Linked DNA regions of Homo sapiens. The protein of the gene in region 2 purifies or fractionates together with the protein of the main gene of each other region. This does not show direct contact. Each region holds a gene or a part of one and is shown on either strand. Other genes may lie near its edges.

Region 1 (3,654 bases), on a different chromosome or scaffold from region 2:
TAATCTACAGAAATACACTTCACAGATGTTTTAGGAACAGAACCTAGAGAAAATGAAAGTCAAAATTTAATAAAAGAATTTGTCAGGAACTTCAAGGTAAAGACTCCATGTATTTTTTGGCAACTATAAAACACTAAGAAGGCTTTTTAAATATTAAAAAGCCATTTAAACACTTCAAATTAAGATTCCTCAATATACTTCAGATTTCTGTACTGAGTTACCCTCTCGAGTGTTTGGAAGTCTTTTCTTCCTCATTAAGCAAACACTTACACAGTGTTATCATGGCTTTGTATTCTTAGTTTTGAAGACAGGCAAATGTACTAGCCAAATATGCCAAACTAACTTATTAAGAGCATTCCAAACAACATTTTGGATCCAATTCTTTTTAAATGCACTTAGATCTTTCTTATATTAGAATCAAGCATATTTGTCAATTATTTAATGTTTATTATTAATAACTAAAATGATTTGTTATTAATAGGAATAGCTTTTTTAAAGTACCTTGATCTTTGTGTTTCTAAGATTTGTCCTAGTCCATTTATGGATCTGAAATAAATAATAAATGAGGAAGACAAAGTTTAAAAGTAAAAATTAACTTTTTAAAAAAGTATACAAAGTATATTGTTTCTAAAACAGGAAATAAGCATACCCAAATACATCTGGAACCAGAAAAAAATTAAAAACAGAAAAACAAAACTTGCTTTAAAAAATAATTGTGATTTTCCTTCAAACAATAAATCACATATATTCCACTCATACATTAATAAAACATATATGCAAAAATTCGCACAACTGTCAGATTAAGGGCTACTTTGTGGTTAATAAAAAGACACTTCACTTTAGAAAAAATCATTCATAAATAGTCAGTTATCCTAGTGTTCTTAAAAATGAGTAGATACTCAAAATTTTTACGGTGGTCACTTTTTTCCTCAGGCATACATGGTAGAAATGGCTATATACACACTAAAAATAAAAACCTAGTTGCAAGTTGCTTTGCCCCCAGCCTGTCCTTAGTATTCACAGTAATTCTAAGTCACACATCCCAGGTTCCTTTATAGAATAACCTCGTCAGTTACCTAATTAGGCTCTCTACCCGTTATGCCTGTTCTCCCTCTTTTGATACTATAGAATATGGCTTCGTATGGCACCAAAAAGTACCTGTTAAATTCTTTTCAACACACTGTACACCTCATCTATTTATCTTTTCCATTGCCTATCATCAATCATCAATTCTCTATCATGAATTCAATTGTCTTTAGGGTTACTTACCCAAGATTCTTGCTACTTGTTCAAGTTTGTTCTCATGGGTAAGGCTTCCCACATATAATGATTCTGAGGCAAGTCTCTCCACTATTTTACAAAATTCTTAAATCTTCTTTTTTGAATACACTCTAGTCTGATGGCTAATTCCTCTCAAACATGTTTACCTTTTTTCACCTCCCCAAATATCATTCTGAGTCAGTCACAAGTCTGATATAAAGGGAGGGTAAAAGCCAAAAGGGTGTGTAATTTATCAAATTGCTTCTTCCAAATTCATTTCTAGTACTGTTAACAAGCTGGCTAATAGTCAATATTGTCAGTGTCAGAGATTTAGCTTAGGTCTCTATAAGGATATAAAAGTCAAGTAATAATTATCATTCCTTTTATGCCAAAAACATTTGCTAAATAGATTGTGTTCTTCTTAGCAATCACAATGGTGCACAAGATTTATGAAGAGAAACAAGATTAGAAGACCAGTGTCAAAAAATGTAAAAGCAATCTTCATTCATCACTTTCTCCTTTTCAAAATCAGCCATCTTTTTCTTTCTTCCCTTTTTTACTATACCTTGAACTTACTATGTAAGCTAAGAAAAAAATTACATAATAATAGCTAACAGAGCACTTACTATGTGTCAGCACTGTGCAAAGTTTACCAACATTGTCTCATGTAATACTCAAAGCAAACTTATGATAGGCATTATGCCTTTTACAGAGGAGGCTTTAAAAGGGTAAATAAGCTCCCTAAGAAGACAATGAGAAACAGACCAAGGATTAGAACCCAAGCAGATTCCAAGGTCTGTGATCTTCAACACTACGCAACAATACCTACCCTCCACGTGGAGACATTATATTTTTTTATAGTAAAGTTTAAGGACATTACTATTAAAATAAGATGAAATATGTGGAAAAAATATGAATTTCTTTCTTCCACAATCATTAATCATGGCAAATAATCTCCTAATGAGCCTTACCTTTATTGATTCAATTGATAATATATACTATATGAACTGAGATGACAGATTCAAAATCTAATGTCAGTAGAACTTATAAATACTAAGAATAGTAATTTTGAGCCATCACGCTCAAAGCATTGTACACATTAAAGATAACCAATACTAATAGCTACCGAATGTCTCTCTGTATAGGGCTTTTATTAGTTCAGGTCTTACAAAATAATTCAAAACAAAGCCCCTGAACTATAACCTCATTTGAAAAGCCCATCTTTGTTTTCAAAAGGAATGGGAGTCTCCAGAACAGTCAGCAAAATGACTGTTAGCACATATTTGAGCATCATTCATATTGTCCTGATTGTCCTATGCTGATCAGCCTTGGCTATGGACAAAGAAGATATTAAAGCAAGCTGGAAGACAAGGCATGGTTGACAGTTAAGGAAGATGAAGTCAACAAGAGTTCAGGGAAAACTGAGACCACTTGAGTCAGGGAAGACTTCACATAGGAAGGGGGGAGAGACAGAATAGGCTCTATAGAATAAATTAAAAAAAAAAAAAGCAGAACAAGAAAGAACTCAGGGATTGGCAGAGTGAGAATACATTACGAGTAAAGACAGGAACTGACAGGATGCATCCATGGGAAAGTGAATTAACCATCCTGGGTAAAGTTAGGGAAGACTGACATTAGGAAAGAGTCAAAGAGAAGACAGGAAAAGAAAGATGGAGTGCGAAGACCCTGAATATCAGTCTATTAACTGTGAACTATATTCTGCAAGCACTGGGGACTAATTTTATGTATTACCATTTATATAACAATTAGCCATCAACAATATATGTGATTCCCTAACGTTCTTGAAGCAGCTCAACCTTATACCTTAAGTTTCTACAGGGCAACAATCAGAGTAAAAAATATTCTGTGTATACAACATGGATCTGTAGGCACTTAACACACTTATCATTTCGTACCTAATTGTCGTTCTTAATTTCTTTACATCTTCTTCTGGAACCAGGTCTGTTTTATTAATGAGAATGGCATCTGCCAAAGCAACTTGTCTAAAATAGCAAACAGAGAAATGTTAAGAAACTTTAAATAATATACACGCATGCAGATTAATACATCAAAAGAGGAATGTTAACAAATCAAAAATAAATAAAAACGCCTCATGTAGATCAATATATCAGTTAAGAATTATCTAGTGCTCTATAGGAGTGACTCAGTTTACTCCTAATCCGCTAATTTTTCAATGTGGATGAATTGTGTTCATTACTATGCAAGTTCAGATTTCACATTACCCATTCGCAAAGTATTTACTAAGTTCTGTTACTTGCTACTCTTGTGCTACAAAGATAAGTCTCAAAAAGTTTACAATCAAAAGGATGATTTTAAACTCATAATTTTCTTTGTGAAGAAAAGCATAAAATTCAGATATCCAATATGGTAAAA
Region 2 (3,654 bases):
TTGCCTCAGGGTCTCCCGGTGTCCTGTGGAAAATGCCTGGCCACGGTTTCCATGGTTCCCAGGCTCCAACCCTGCAGTTCTCAGCCCTCATTCAGGAGGGGCCTCGGCAGGGTGGGGGGTGCCGTCTTTCCCTTGCTGGAGCCCCAAGGACTCTGCCGGCTCCCTCGCTTTGGCAGCAGCACTGCCCACCCTGTCTCTGGAGGTTCCCCCGCCTCAATCCACCCAGCTACCCCGAAAGGCACAATCATAGGCCTTTCTCGTCTTTTAAGGGTTTTTACTTCCATGGGGAACTATGTGTTGGATGAGAAAAGTATCCGGGGAAGGGGACAGAGGTTCAGAAAGCTCTGCGAGTCCTGGACGCTGGTCTGCCTTCTTGGCTCACCCTGGAAGGTGGACGCTGGCCCCACACATCCCCTCTTAAAGACGCAGGCCGATAGCCAGCAGATCCTGGGGCTTGCTGGCCCCAAGTGAGTTGTCAGGGTTTCAGAGGACACCAGTCATGGCAACCCCAGCTCCATGGCTGCCACACAGGCCTGGGCTTCCCAGGACTGCCTCCTTCTTGTTCGCTTATGTAGATGAAAAATGAGGTAACGGCACTCCCCTGCCCCACCCTCCTCCCAGAAGTGCCCAGGGTGTAAACGCAATAGCTTGTGTGAAGTCCACTGGAACCCAGGCTCACCAAGTCAGTCTTAACCAACACAGGCCCCAGCACCCGCAGAGCAGACACTGCGATGACAACGGACGACACAGAAGTGCCCGCTATGACTCTAGCACCGGGCCACGCCGCTCTGGAAACTCAAACGCTGAGCGCTGAGACCTCTTCTAGGGCCTCAACCCCAGCCGGCCCCATTCCAGAAGCAGAGACCAGGGGAGCCAAGAGAATTTCCCCTGCAAGAGAGACCAGGAGTTTCACAAAAACATCTCCCAACTTCATGGTGCTGATCGCCACCTCCGTGGAGACATCAGCCGCCAGTGGCAGCCCCGAGGGAGCTGGAATGACCACAGTTCAGACCATCACAGGCAGTGATCCCAGGGAAGCCATCTTTGACACCCTTTGCACCGATGACAGCTCTGAAGAGGCAAAGACACTCACAATGGACATATTGACATTGGCTCACACCTCCACAGAAGCTAAGGGCCTGTCCTCAGAGAGCAGCGCCTCTTCCGACAGCCCCCATCCAGTCATCACCCCGTCACGGGCCTCAGAGAGCAGCGCCTCTTCCGACGGCCCCCATCCAGTCATCACCCCGTCACGGGCCTCAGAGAGCAGCGCCTCTTCCGACGGCCCCCATCCAGTCATCACCCCGTCACGGGCCTCAGAGAGCAGCGCCTCTTCCGACGGCCCCCATCCAGTCATCACCCCGTCACGGGCCTCAGAGAGCAGCGCCTCTTCCGACGGCCCCCATCCAGTCATCACCCCGTCACGGGCCTCAGAGAGCAGCGCCTCTTCCGACGGCCCCCATCCAGTCATCACCCCGTCACGGGCCTCAGAGAGCAGCGCCTCTTCCGACGGCCCCCATCCAGTCATCACCCCGTCACGGGCCTCAGAGAGCAGCGCCTCTTCCGACGGCCCCCATCCAGTCATCACCCCGTCACGGGCCTCAGAGAGCAGCGCCTCTTCCGACGGCCCCCATCCAGTCATCACCCCGTCACGGGCCTCAGAGAGCAGCGCCTCTTCCGACGGCCTCCATCCAGTCATCACCCCGTCACGGGCCTCAGAGAGCAGCGCCTCTTCCGACGGCCCCCATCCAGTCATCACCCCGTCACGGGCCTCAGAGAGCAGCGCCTCTTCCGACGGCCCCCATCCAGTCATCACCCCCTCATGGTCCCCGGGATCTGACGTCACTCTCCTCGCTGAAGCCCTGGTGACTGTCACAAACATCGAGGTTATTAATTGCAGCATCACAGAAATAGAAACAACGACTTCCAGCATCCCTGGGGCCTCAGACACAGATCTCATCCCCACGGAAGGGGTGAAGGCCTCGTCCACCTCCGATCCACCAGCTCTGCCTGACTCCACTGAAGCAAAACCACACATCACTGAGGTCACAGCCTCTGCCGAGACCCTGTCCACAGCCGGCACCACAGAGTCAGCTGCACCTGATGCCACGGTTGGGACCCCACTCCCCACTAACAGCGCCACAGAAAGAGAAGTGACAGCACCCGGGGCCACGACCCTCAGTGGAGCTCTGGTCACAGTTAGCAGGAATCCCCTTGAAGAAACCTCAGCCCTCTCTGTTGAGACACCAAGTTACGTCAAAGTCTCAGGAGCAGCTCCGGTCTCCATAGAGGCTGGGTCAGCAGTGGGCAAAACAACTTCCTTTGCTGGGAGCTCTGCTTCCTCCTACAGCCCCTCGGAAGCCGCCCTCAAGAACTTCACCCCTTCAGAGACACCGACCATGGACATCGCAACCAAGGGGCCCTTCCCCACCAGCAGGGACCCTCTTCCTTCTGTCCCTCCGACTACAACCAACAGCAGCCGAGGGACGAACAGCACCTTAGCCAAGATCACAACCTCAGCGAAGACCACGATGAAGCCCCCAACAGCCACGCCCACGACTGCCCGGACGAGGCCGACCACAGACGTGAGTGCAGGTAAGTGGCTCCTGCTGGTGATCTTCGGGGATTTGGGATGCGGAGTTTCCAGGACGTCTCCGCACTTGAGGAGTGGAGAGGAGGGAAGGATCTGGAGCCTACTCAGAGCCTGCTCCTGATGTTGCCTCTTCGTGATCTTCTAGTGGTTCTTGGCGAAATCAGGAAAAGGCAGATGGAGGGTTGTGTATGGAAAGGGGTGGGGATGGAAGTCCGGAGAAATGGTTTGCGGTCTCGGCTCTGCCTGTAACAACCCGAGTGACCTTGGGCAAGTCCCTGTCCCTCTCTGGGCCTCAGTTTCTCCACCTGTATTTGGAGAGGGTTGGAATGGGCACTGAAGTCCTGTCCAGCTCTGACCTTCTGTGAAGTGCACTGTTGAGCAGCTCTGGAAGCTTCTATTCCAGCCATAGCCACACAGAGGAGCAGCAGGCAGGCATCAGGCCCAAGCTGCTGCTCTCTGACAGGCTGGGACCCCATGAAAGTGGGGCCTGCTGGATGCATTTCCTGGGATTTATGCCATAGATAGTGACTTAAAATAAATTAATACAGGCCTGGAGCGGTGGCTTATGCCTGTAATCCCAGCACTTTGGGAGGCAGAGGCCGGCGGATCACCTGAGGTCAGGAGTTCGAGACCAGGCTGACCAACATGGTGAAACCCCATCTCTACTAAAAATATGAAAATTAGCTGGGCGCAGTGGTGGGCGCCTGTAATCCCAGCTACTTGGGAGACTGAGGCAGGAGAATCACTTGAACCCGGGAGGTGGAGGTTACAGTGAGCTGAGACGGAGTGAAACTCCGTCTCAAAAAAAAAAGGTAAGATAAAATAAGCAAATACAGCGAAGGCTTGGGAGTTTAAAGCTACATCTCTGAGGCAACAGGGACTTCTCAGGGGAGAAGTTCATTGTCAGAGGCTGCTTGGTCAGTCCAGCTTCTGGTCAGCCTGTAGCCTCCACCTCCACTTCCTGTCACTCTGCCCTTGGGCCTCATCTCTGTGTATCCGCAGCTTGTTACCACCTTTCTGGGGGAGGTGGGAATACAAATATTAATCACAACCACTCAATA

The links. Proteins that work in one complex are often made in the same cells at the same time.
Region 1: the proteins of MUC20 (region 2) and ZNG1A purify together in Homo sapiens (affinity purification with mass spectrometry; 2 studies listed by BioGRID and IntAct, with this or other methods). This does not show direct contact.

What each region holds. Positions count from the first base shown.
Region 1 is NC_000009.12:151,533-155,186, forward strand, and holds part of ZNG1A (zinc-regulated GTPase metalloprotein activator 1A), read right to left. Parts: intron 3,264-3,654; coding exon 3,177-3,263; intron 547-3,176; coding exon 502-546; intron 1-501. UniProt on the Homo sapiens protein: Zinc chaperone that directly transfers zinc cofactor to target metalloproteins, thereby activating them.
Region 2 is NC_000003.12:195,723,978-195,727,631, forward strand, and holds part of MUC20 (mucin-20 isoform a precursor), read left to right. Parts: intron 1-702; coding exon 703-2,595; intron 2,596-3,654. UniProt on the Homo sapiens protein: May regulate MET signaling cascade. Seems to decrease hepatocyte growth factor (HGF)-induced transient MAPK activation. Blocks GRB2 recruitment to MET thus suppressing the GRB2-RAS pathway. Inhibits HGF-induced proliferation of MMP1 and MMP9 expression.